Linked DNA regions of Homo sapiens: region 2 is linked to region 1. The links come from fine-mapping of genetic effects on gene expression. A gene starts in region 1. The other region holds a variant in brackets. All regions are shown on one strand. Distances are from middle to middle. Region 1 holds the start of COX7A1 (cytochrome c oxidase subunit 7A1). Region 2 overlaps ZFP14 (ZFP14 zinc finger protein).

Region 1 (5,339 bases):
CTGGCTCAGAAGCTCCCCCACTGAGCACTTTGTGACCCCTTCGCCCCTGCCCACCAGAGCACAACCCCCTTTGACAGTAATTTTCCATTACCTTCCCAAATCCTATAAAATGGCCCCATCCCTATCTCCCTTCGCTGACTCTCTTTTCTGACTCAGCCCGCCTGCACCCAGGTGAAATAAACAGCCATGTTGCTCACACAAAGCCTGTTTGGTGGTCTCTTCACACGGACGCGCATGAAATAAACAAATAAAGAAAATGAAAGAAAAACAGGACAGGCACAGTGGGTCACGCCTGTAATCCCAGCACTTTGGGAGGCCGAGACAGATGGATCACCTGAGGTCAGGAGTTCGTGACCATCCTGGCCAACATGGTGAAACCTCGTCTCTACTAAAATACAAAAAATTAGCCAGGCGTGGTGTCGTGCACCTAGTCCCAGCTACTTGGGAGGCTGAGGCAGGGGAATCACTTGAACCCGGGAGGCGGAGACTGCAGTGAGCAGAGATTGCGCCATTGCACTCCAGCCTGGGTGACAGAGCGAGACTTCATCTCAAATAGAAAAAAAAGAGGCTGGGCGTGGTGGCTCACGCCTGTAATCCCAGCACTTTGGGAGGCCGAGGCGGGTGGATCACGAGGTCAGGAGATTGAGACCATCCTGGCTAACACGGTGAAACCCTGTCTCTACTAAAAATACAAAAAAAAAACTTAGCTGGACGTGGTGGCGGGCGCCTGTAGTCCCAGCTACTGGGGAGCCTGAGGCAGGAGAATGGCGTGAACCTGGGAGGCGGAGCTTGCAGTGAGCCGAGATGGCGCCACTGCACTCCAGCCTGGGTGACTGAGCAAGACTCCGTCTCAAAAAAGAAAAAAGAAAATTAAGACAGTCAAAACCATAGTATTAACTTGTTTGTTTTGTTTTGTTTTGAGATGGAGTCTCGCTCTCTTGCCCGGGCTGGAGTGTAATGGCGTAATCTCTGCTCAGTGCAACCTCCGCCTCCCAGGTTCAAGTGATTCTCCTGCCTCAGCCTCCGGAGTATCTGGGATTACAGGCACCCACCACCACGCCTGGCTAATTTTTGTATTTTTAGTAGAGACGGGGTTTCACCATGCTGGCCAGGCTGGTCTCGAACTCCTGACCCAGGTGATCCACCCACCTCGGCCTCCCAAAGTGTTGGAATTACTGGCGTGAGCCACAGTGCCTGGCCCCCATGGTATTAACTTTGTGTTAGAGAATCTGTGAATACTTGGTATTTTAAGAATTTGTAATATTTAAGGTAAACTGGCCTATTCAAATAACAGGTCAATCTTGTAATTCCATTGTAAAATGTGGAATTCAGCTGGTGACTAAGACTTACTTGAAATCTGTTTATGTACAGTTTATGAATTTTTTATTCATAAAAGTTATTTAAGAATTGAAGAAAGAGTCATCTGTTTATCTGGTAAGTCAGCTTTTTTTTTTTTTTTTTTCTGAGACAGAATCTCGTTCTGTCACCCAAGCTGGAGTGCAGTGGTGCAATCTTGGCTCACTGCAGCCTCCGTGCCTCTTGGGTTCAAACGATTTTTGTGCCTCAGCCTCACAAGCAGCTGGGATTGTAGGCGCCCATGACCACACCTGGTTAATTTTAGTATTTTTAGTAGAGACAGGGTTTTGTCATGTTGACCAGGCTGGTCTCAAACTCCCAGCCTCAAGTGATCCACCTGCCTTGGCCTCCCAAAGTGCCGGGATTACAGGTGTGAGCCACCACGCCCAGCCCTACTTGTGGCTCTTAAATGGAAAAACCTAACATTAAATTTACAAGCATAGTTTGAAAGTGTTAGGGGAATTTAATAATCATAAAAGCCCTCTTTAAAAGAGACCGTGGCTGGAAGCGGTGGCTCAGGCCTGTAATTCCAGCACTTTGGAAGGCCAAAGTGGGCGGATCACCTGAGGTTGGGAGCTTGAGACCAGCCTGGCCAACATGGTGTAACCCCATCTCTACTAAAAAATACAAAAATGAGCTGGGTGTGGTGGCGGGTGCCTGTAATCCCAGCTGCTCAGGAGGCTGAGGTACAAGAATTGCCTAAACCCAGGAGGCAGAAGGTTTCAGTGAGCCGAGATCACACCACTGCACTCCAACGTGTACAACAGAGCAAGACTCTGTCTAAAAATATAAATTAAATAAATAAATAAAAGAGATTGTTAAAACCTTTTACAAGCTGGGTATAGTGGCTCATGCCTCTAATTCTAGCACTTTGGGTGATAGAGGTAGGAACATTACTTGGAGGAGTTGGAGACCACCCTGGGCAACATAGCAAGACACTGCCTCAAAAACAAACAAACAAACATTGTCTGCTGGCTGGGTGCGTGGCTCACGATGAGGCCGGCAAATTTCTTGAGCTCAGGAGTTCGACACCAGCCTGGGCAACATGGTGAAACCCAGCCTCTACAAAAAATACGAAAATTAGTTCGAGCATGGTGGTGGGCGCCTGTAGTCCCAGCCACTCAGGAGGCTGAGGCAGGAGGATCGCTGAACCCAGGAGGTCGAGGCTGCAGTGAGCTATGACCGCACCACTGCACTCCAGCCTGTGCAACAGAGCAAAACCCTGTCTAAAAAAAAAAGAAAAAAAAGAAAAGAAAAAGAAAACCTTGTAGACTAGGCCAGGATCTTTCCTGGTTGCTAAAACCATTAGGACAACTGTGCTGCACCCCGTTGACTGCCAGAATTAGAGAGCTATAAATAGATATGATGTGTTTCTTAGGGTAACATAAAATACCGTTTTACTCCCAAAGACTTTAGCTTGTGTTTCCTAAAAACAAGGTCATTTAATGTCTCAACAAATCTCTGAGAAAGATCCTGCCTTAGCCCTCACGTTACAGATACGGAAACAGGCTCGGAGGTGCAATCTCTGGCTGTGTAGACAGAACAGGGAGTTGGAACACGGCCTTATGCGTTTCCTCACTCTCACATACCAGCGGGCAGGGAGAGATCCGGGGAGGAGTTGCACTTGCCCCCGGCGGAAATCTCCAAAAATCTGCAAAAATGTATTCCCTGGTACCGCTTTGGGCTCCGGTGGGACCAAGCGAAATTCCGAGACCGAAACGGATGCGCGCTGCGGCCCAGGGTGCGGGTCTGGACCGCCTCCTCCGTGGTGGACGAATCCGAGGAGCAGGACTCCCCGCAACCCAGCCCCAGCCCCAGCCCCAGCCCCGCCGCGTCCCCAGCTGTCACGCTGCGCGCAGCGGGTGGGGCCTGGGGTTCCTGGACAGAGGAGGACTACGCGTGTCCTTGGGCGGAGAAGGGAGGTGACTCCGGCGGAAGAGGACAAGGCAGAATGCAGGCCCTTCGGGTGAGGCCCCCATGGGCTGGGCCGGAGCCCCCCACCCAGAAAACCCCGCCCTAATACGCGACTCTCCAAGTGCCCCCGCATCTAGGGCCTTGGAACGTGAGCCACCTTCAGGGCCTGGGACTCCCCGCTAAACAGCCTGGGTCCCTTCCCCCACAATCCACTCTTCGGAGACAACTGGGGACCCCCACCCCGGCCCAAAGCCCCGGGTTTGAACTTGACATCTCGGGAACCCTTAACACTGGCCTCACCCGGGCCTTCTCAGGCAGCCTGGACGCTCCCGGGGACCTCCATTCCGGTCCCCACGTTCCCGGGACCTGGTTTCCTCCCTTTAATCCAGGAAACCCTCCCCCAACAAAAATCTCAGGACTTAGGCCCCCCAGAACAAAGTCCTTCTGGGTCCTCTCCCTTCCAGGACCCTCTAGGCAGCCCGGTCACCCCCAGGCCAGACTCCAGGGCGAGTCCCCTCCCAACCCAGCTGGCAGTTCGCGGGTAACAGAATCCAAGCTATTACCCTCCTCGCCTTTGGGACGCTCGCTAGGGATGGGGCTGTCCCCACGTCCAGGCCTCAGAGAGCGGGGTCCCACTTCAGGACACCCCTCCAGGTGCCTCCAATACCCGCCCACCTCCCACCCCGCAGGTGTCCCAGGCGCTGATCCGCTCCTTCAGCTCCACCGCCCGGAACCGCTTTCAGAACCGAGTGCGCGAGAAACAGAAGCTCTTCCAGGTGGGGGGTCGGGGGGGGTGGGGATCCGACGCGCCAGCCGGGAGCGCGCCGAGCCGGGGCAGGCGGGGCGCGCTCTAAGGAGCAGCCAGCACCCCTTTCTCATCAGACACCCCCACATCCAGGAGGACAATGACATCCCGTTGTACCTGAAGGGCGGCATCGTTGACAACATCCTGTACCGAGTGACAATGACGCTGTGTCTGGGCGGTGAGCGCAGGGCCCGTCTGGGCTGCGGGGGAGGCGGGGCTGGACCCAGAGTAAGAGGTGGCTGGTTTCTGGGCAGGACTGACCAGGATCTGGGTTGGGGGTTGGCGTTTAGGAAGGGGGTCGAGTACTGAGCTGGAGTCAGGCCTGCAGGGAGGGGAGTAACTAGGGTTTGGGCTCTTGTCCCAGGACGGGGGCTGGGTTAGTGGTGGGGCTGAGGCCCAGGGAGGAGTCGGGGAGAAAGCTCCCAGCCCGGTCTAGATCAAAGCCAGGGGGCTTTACAATAGGAGTCCAATCTGGGAAGGGAGCTGGAGTCCGAACTAGAGCTGGGGTCCAGGCTGGGAACCAGGGAGCCTGAAGGCCTTAAAAGCCTGGGATGTCCAGGGAGGGGATTAGGTCTCATTCTGTCTCCAACGCTTCCCCTTTCTAGGCACTGTCTACAGCTTGTACTCCCTTGGCTGGGCCTCCTTCCCCAGGAATTAAGACCAAGAAGCCTGGGGGGCCTGAGAGACTTGAACAAGTGTCAATAAACGCTGGCCTCTGTGTGTGTCTGTGTTTGTGTCCACCCCTCCCCACCAAGCCCATCCTCCCACCAGCCAGGGATCTCTGCCCTGTGGACTGCCCACTGCCCCCAGCCCTCGGTGCCTCATGCTGGACCAGGGATACTCCTAGGATGTTGCTACCTCTCAGCCCTCTGCTGAGTACCCCAAACAGCACCCATAGGCTCCCCCTCGGGACCCGGGGACGTGGGGTGGTGTCCTCAAGTGGGAAGGAAGACACTGAGCATGGTCCATGACACAACAGAGGCAGAGGCCAAGTGTGGATGGAGAAGCTGCAAGAGGGGCAAACATGGCCTTGGGGGACAGGGCCAGGAGTGGCATTGAGACCTCCCTCCAGCCCAGACTCTGGAAGCAGAAGCAGAGATCACTGGGGCTTCTGGGTCCTGTCTCAGCCTCCACAGCTCAGGATGAGACAAAAAATGCCGACGAGAAAAAGACGAGGAAATCCACGGATCCAGCCCTGGGGACGAATCTACTACCTCCCCTGCTCCCCAGGACCCAGAGCCCGAGCCACCCCTCCTCTCTCGGG
Region 2 (5,415 bases), 180 kb before region 1:
ACAGATCCAGAATGTGTGAAATTCTACAGAGCAAATTACCTGATTTCTTCAACTAACAGGTAGCATGAAAATACAAGGGGAAGGGCAACCATTAACAGATTAAAAGAGACTTAAAGAGACATATCAACTAAATTCAGTATGTTGGCATTACTTGGACCTGGTTTGAACAAAACATAAAAAGCCATTTTGGAGACAGTGAGGGAAGTGTGGACATGGACTAAATATTAAATGATATTTACATATATTAATTTGGTTAGGGATTATGTCAGTGTGATTATAAAAAATAAAAGATCGTATGATATGAGATACATACTATGAAATGAAGATAGACACATTTGGATTAAAATATTCTAGCAAAAGAAATAATTGGCAAAGAGAGCTGGAAACTAAATTGGCAACATGTTGATAATTTAAGTGGAGTGTTTTGTTCATGGAGACTTATTGTTCTAATATTTCTACTTTTGTATGTGTTTGAAATTTCAATAATAAAATGTTTAAAATCAAAACCAAAATTATAGACTATGTAGAAATGAATGACAGTGAGATGCCTGCACATCTAACCTTGTCAGATATAATCAAAGTTCTGTTCAGTGACAAATTAATGCCCTGTAATGTGGTAAGGAAATCTTATTTGTGGATACAGTCTTCATCTTCTTCACTTACCCACAGCAGCAACACCAGGCCTGTCACACAGATGAATGTGTTGAGGGAATGAATAAGTATTTCCGTCAAGAAAAAGGAAACAACAAAATAAAACCAACCCAAGTAAAGAACAGCCAAGTGGCCAGGTGCGGTGGCTCATGCCTGTAATCCCAGCACTTTGGGAGGCCATGGCAGGTGGATCACCTGAGGTCGGGATTTTGAGACCAGCCTGACCAACACTGAGAAACCCCATCTCTATTAAAGATACAAAATTAGCCAGGCATGGTGGTGCATGCCTGTAATCCCAGCTACTTGGGAGGCTAAGGCAGGAGAATCACTTGAATCCAGGAGGCGGAGTTTGTGGTGAGTTGAGATCGCGCCACTGCACTCCAGCCTGGGTAACAGAGCAAGAGTCTGTCAAAAAAAAAAAAAAAAAAAAAGGAACAGCCAAGTAACAGTAGAAAGTAGAAATTAAGAGAATGGAGAATATTAGACTTGATTCAATGTTAATAGTGATTAGATTTTGGCAGTTATAATCAAGGAAGAGAAAATGAAAGATAATACATTTAGAGTATTAATGATGATAAAAGAGACACAACTCTAGATTATATCAAGCAGATTTTTAAAATTATAAGGCAAAACTAGGCCGGGCACAGTGGCTCACACCTGTAACCCCAGCACTTTGGGAGGCCGAGGTGGGTGGATCACTTGAAGTCAGGAGTTCGAGACCAGCCTGACCAACATAGCAAAACCCCATCTCTACTAAAAATACAAAAATTAGCCTGTCATGGTGGCGGGCACCTGTAATCTAAGCTACTGGGGAGCCTGAGGCAGGAGAATTGCTTGAACCCAGGAGGCAGAGGTTGCGGTGAACCAAGATCACGCCACTGCACTCCAGCCTGGGTGACAGAGTGAGAACCTGTCTCAAAAATAATAAACATAATATGGTAAAACTATACATGCACACATGCACAAACGTGTATATTCATTCCAGTACAAGTAAAAATGTAGGATTGCATTTTTCCCCCAAAAGGAATATGTTTTACAATTAACTCACCGTATAACCCAAATAGATTAACAAAAAATGTGTGTGTGTGTGTGTGTGTGTGAACTCCCTGTTTAAAAAATCTGATACTTATAAAAACTTTAAGGAATAGATAATCCTAAAGATTTTACCAATTAATTCTGCAAGGTAAAATAATCCTAATAAAAATTAGATGAAGATAGTTTCTGAAAGCAAATTCTAGACCACCTTCATTATGAAGATTCTATTTTTCACAATTCTAAATAAAGTTTATTTAGAATTTATTACAAAATCTATCTTTGCTAATAGGTCAGTGTTTCTTTTCCCAAGCACCAAATACCTCCAGAAAGCCTGTGTTTGACCCCTAAATTCAACATTCTCCAGAAGTTTGCTTCAAGGAATATTAATTCTCGATGGTATTTGAAAAAAAGATTTCTTGGGAAAATAGGCAAATGAAGCAAAACATAAAACATCTACTTTTGGCCAGGCACGGTGGCTCACGCCTGTAATCCCAACATTTTGGGAGGCCAAGGCGAGCAGATCACTTGAGGTCAGGAGTTTGAGACCAGCCTGGCCAACATGGTGAAACCCTGTCTCTACTAAAAATACAAAATTAGCTGGGCGTGGTGGCTTGCACCTGTAATCCCAGCTACTTGGGAGGCTGAGGCAGGAGAATTGCTTGAACCCAGGAAATGGAGATTGCAGTGAGCTGAGATTTTGCCATTGCACTCCAACCTGGGCAACAAGAGTGAAACTCAGTCTCAAATAAAATAAAATAAAAATCTACTTTTGAGGAATTCAAAGTATACATGATCAGTTTGCCAAAGATTTAGTAAAGACATTTTTATTTAACTGAGTGTATCTCAAATTTATTGTGGAATTCTCAGTCCGAATATCTGGAATAGGAACAGCTTTGTTAGATGCTACCATAACCACAATGAATGTCTTCAAGGGTGTAATTTTAGATATGGTGAGTGGTTGTGTTGGGGGCGGCATAAGTCAGGGCAATTTTTTGCAGCTCATATCATGCTCTGAAAGTAGCTACCTGCTTTAATGGATGGTTAGTGCTTTTCTATAGAATGGAAAAGATTCCAGCCCGATCCTTGATATGTTTGTGTTAAACATGCTTATATATTATATTAAACAATGATTAAGGACATAAATGAGTTTCTGTGGTAATAAAGATGCTATATTGAATATCATTTTGTGTATTTTTTAATTTCCTTAAAGAGTCAAGAATCTAAGGTATTACCTAGAAATGAAATTGTTCGTTATAGGCTGTATACACTTTCAGCTTCACTGCTTATTGCCAAATTGTGGCTCCACCATT[G/A]TTCCAGTTTTGAATCCCTTTGATCATTGAATATCAGTGTTCATATTTCCCTACCTCTGCTATAAGTTTCAATATTTATTACACTGGGCCAGGCACGGTGGCTCACACCTATAATCCCAGCACTTTGGAAGGCCAAGGCAGGAGGATTGCTTGAGCCCAGAAGTACGAGACCAGGCTGGGCAACATGGCAAAACTCCATTTCTACAGAAAATACAAAAATTGGTTGGGTGCGGTGGCATGTGCCTGTGGTCTCAGCTACTTGGGAGGCGGAGGTGGACGGATCACTTGAGTCTGGGAAGTCAAGGCTGCAGTAAGCTGTGATCATGCCACTGCACTCCAGCCTGAGTGTTGGAGTGAGACCCGGTTTCAAAAAAAAAAAAAATTATTACCTTGATTACAAGTGAGTCAAGCATCTGTTCATATGCGTTTATTGGCCAATCGTGTTTACTGTGCTTTTTAATGATGCCTTTGCTGTATTTTTTTTTGCATTCTCATTTATTGATTTTTCAGGATTCTTAAAATAGTTTAGTATCGGTCGGGTGCGGTGGCTCACGCCTGTAATCCCAGCACTTTGAGAGGCCAAGGCAGGTGGATCACCTGAGGTCAGGAGTTCAAGACCAGCCTGGCCAACATGGTGAAACCCCATCTCTACTAAAAATACAAAAATTAGCTGGGCGTGGTGGTGCTCACCTGTAATCCCAGCTACTCGGGAGGCTGAGGCAGGAGAATCTCTTGAACCCAGGAGGCAGAGGTTGCAGTGAGCCGAGATCGCGCCACTGCACTCCAGCCTGGGTGACAGAATGAGACTCCCTCTCAAAAAAAAAATTTTTTTTTTAGGTATTGATCATTTTAGGTATTAAACATTTATAACCTGACCTCAAGTTATCTGCCTGCCTCGACCTCCCAAAGTGCTGGGATTATAGGCATAAGCCACCAATTCTGGCCTCTTTTTCTCTCCAATTCTGAAGCTTCACCACAAAGCAGTCAGAAACCAGGGACAGTAAGCCAGGAAATGAGGAAAAGAACTGAAAAGGCAGAAGCCATCCATATTTTATTTCCTCCTCTGCCATCTTACCACACTCCTTCCCCTTCCCCCACAGCATGGCTGAACTAAGGGAGAGCAGAACCCTCATCTGTAAAAAATGCTTAAGGTTTCTTTTTCTTTCCCTCCCTCCCTCCCTTCCCTTCTGTGGGGAAAAGAGAGATCAGACTGTTACTGTGTCTATGTAGAAAGAAGTAGACATAAGAGATTCCATTTTGTTCTGTACTAAGAAAAATTCTTCTGCCTTGAGATGCTGTTAATCTGTAACCCTAGCCCCAACCCTGTGCTCACAGAGACATGTGCTGTGTTGACTCAAGGTTCAATGGATTTAGGGCTATGCTTTGTTAAAAAAGTGCTTGAAGATAATATGCTTGTTAAAAGTCATCACCATTCTCTAATCTCAAGTACCCAGGGACACAATACACTGCGGAAGGCCGCAGGGACCTCTGTCTAGGAAAGCCAGGTATTGTCCAAGATTTCTCCCCATGTGATAGCCTGAGATATGGCCTCATGGGAAGGGTAAGACCTGACTGTCCCCCAGCCCGACATCCCCCAGCCCGACACCCGAAAAGGGTCTGTGCTGAGGAGGATTAGTAAAAGAGGAAGGCCTCTTTGCAGTTGAGGTAAGAGGAAGGCATCTGTCTCCTGCTCGTCCCTGGGCAATAGAATGTCTTGGTGTAAAACCCGATTGTATGTTCTACTTACTGAGATAGGAGAAAACATCCTTAGGGCTGGAGGTGAGACACGCTGGCGGCAATACTGCTCTTTAATGCACCGAGATGTTTGTATAAGTGCACATCAAGGCACAGCACCTTTCCTTAAACTTATTTATGACACAGAGACCTTTGTTCACGTTTTCCTGCTGACCCTCTCCCCACTATTACCCTATTGGCCTGCCACATCCCCCTCTCCGAGATGGTAGAGATAATGATCAATAAATACTGAGGGAACTCAGAGACCAGTGTCCCTGTAGGTCCTCCGTGTGCTGAGCGCCGGTCCCTTGGGCTCACTTTTCTTTCTCTATACTTTGTCTCTGTGTCTCTTTCTTTTCTCAGTCTCTCGTTCCACCTGACGAGAAATACCCACAGGTGTGGAGGGGCAGGCCACCCCTTCAATAATTTACTAGCCTGTTCGCTGACAACAAGACTGGTGGTGCAGAAGGTTGGGTCTTGGTGTTCACCGGGTGGCAGGCATGGGCCAGGTGGGAGGGTCTCCAGCGCCTGGTGCAAATCTCCAAGAAAGTGCAGGAAACAGCACCAAGGGTGATTGTAAATTTTGATTTGGCGCGGCAGGTAGCCATTCCAGCGCAAAAATGCGCAGGAAAGCTTTTGCTGTGCTTGTAGGCAGGTAGGCCCCAAGCACTTCTTATTGGCTAAT

The links. PIP is the estimated chance that this variant, and not a neighbour inherited with it, causes the effect. A credible set is the group of variants that fine-mapping cannot tell apart.
Region 2: its variant is the best candidate, but not a certain one, in a credible set for the expression of COX7A1 in thyroid (GTEx, PIP 0.67).

What each region holds. Positions count from the first base shown.
Region 1 is chr19:36,150,376-36,155,714 of GRCh38, reverse strand. It overlaps COX7A1 (cytochrome c oxidase subunit 7A1), which reads left to right and starts at 3,268. Exons shown (of 4, transcript NM_001864.4): 1 at 3,268-3,322; 2 at 3,960-4,046; 3 at 4,169-4,253; 4 at 4,681-4,793. The coding sequence starts at 3,308. The coding sequence ends at 4,733. RefSeq lists an enhancer at 1-372.
Region 2 is chr19:36,331,906-36,337,320 of GRCh38, reverse strand. ZFP14 (ZFP14 zinc finger protein) reads left to right here. Exons shown (of 5, transcript NM_020917.3): 5 at 1-2,868. Among named protein-coding and RNA genes, the nearest start is that of LINC00665, 2.9 kb to the right of the region's middle. The variant G/A (reference allele first, on the strand shown) is at 2,997.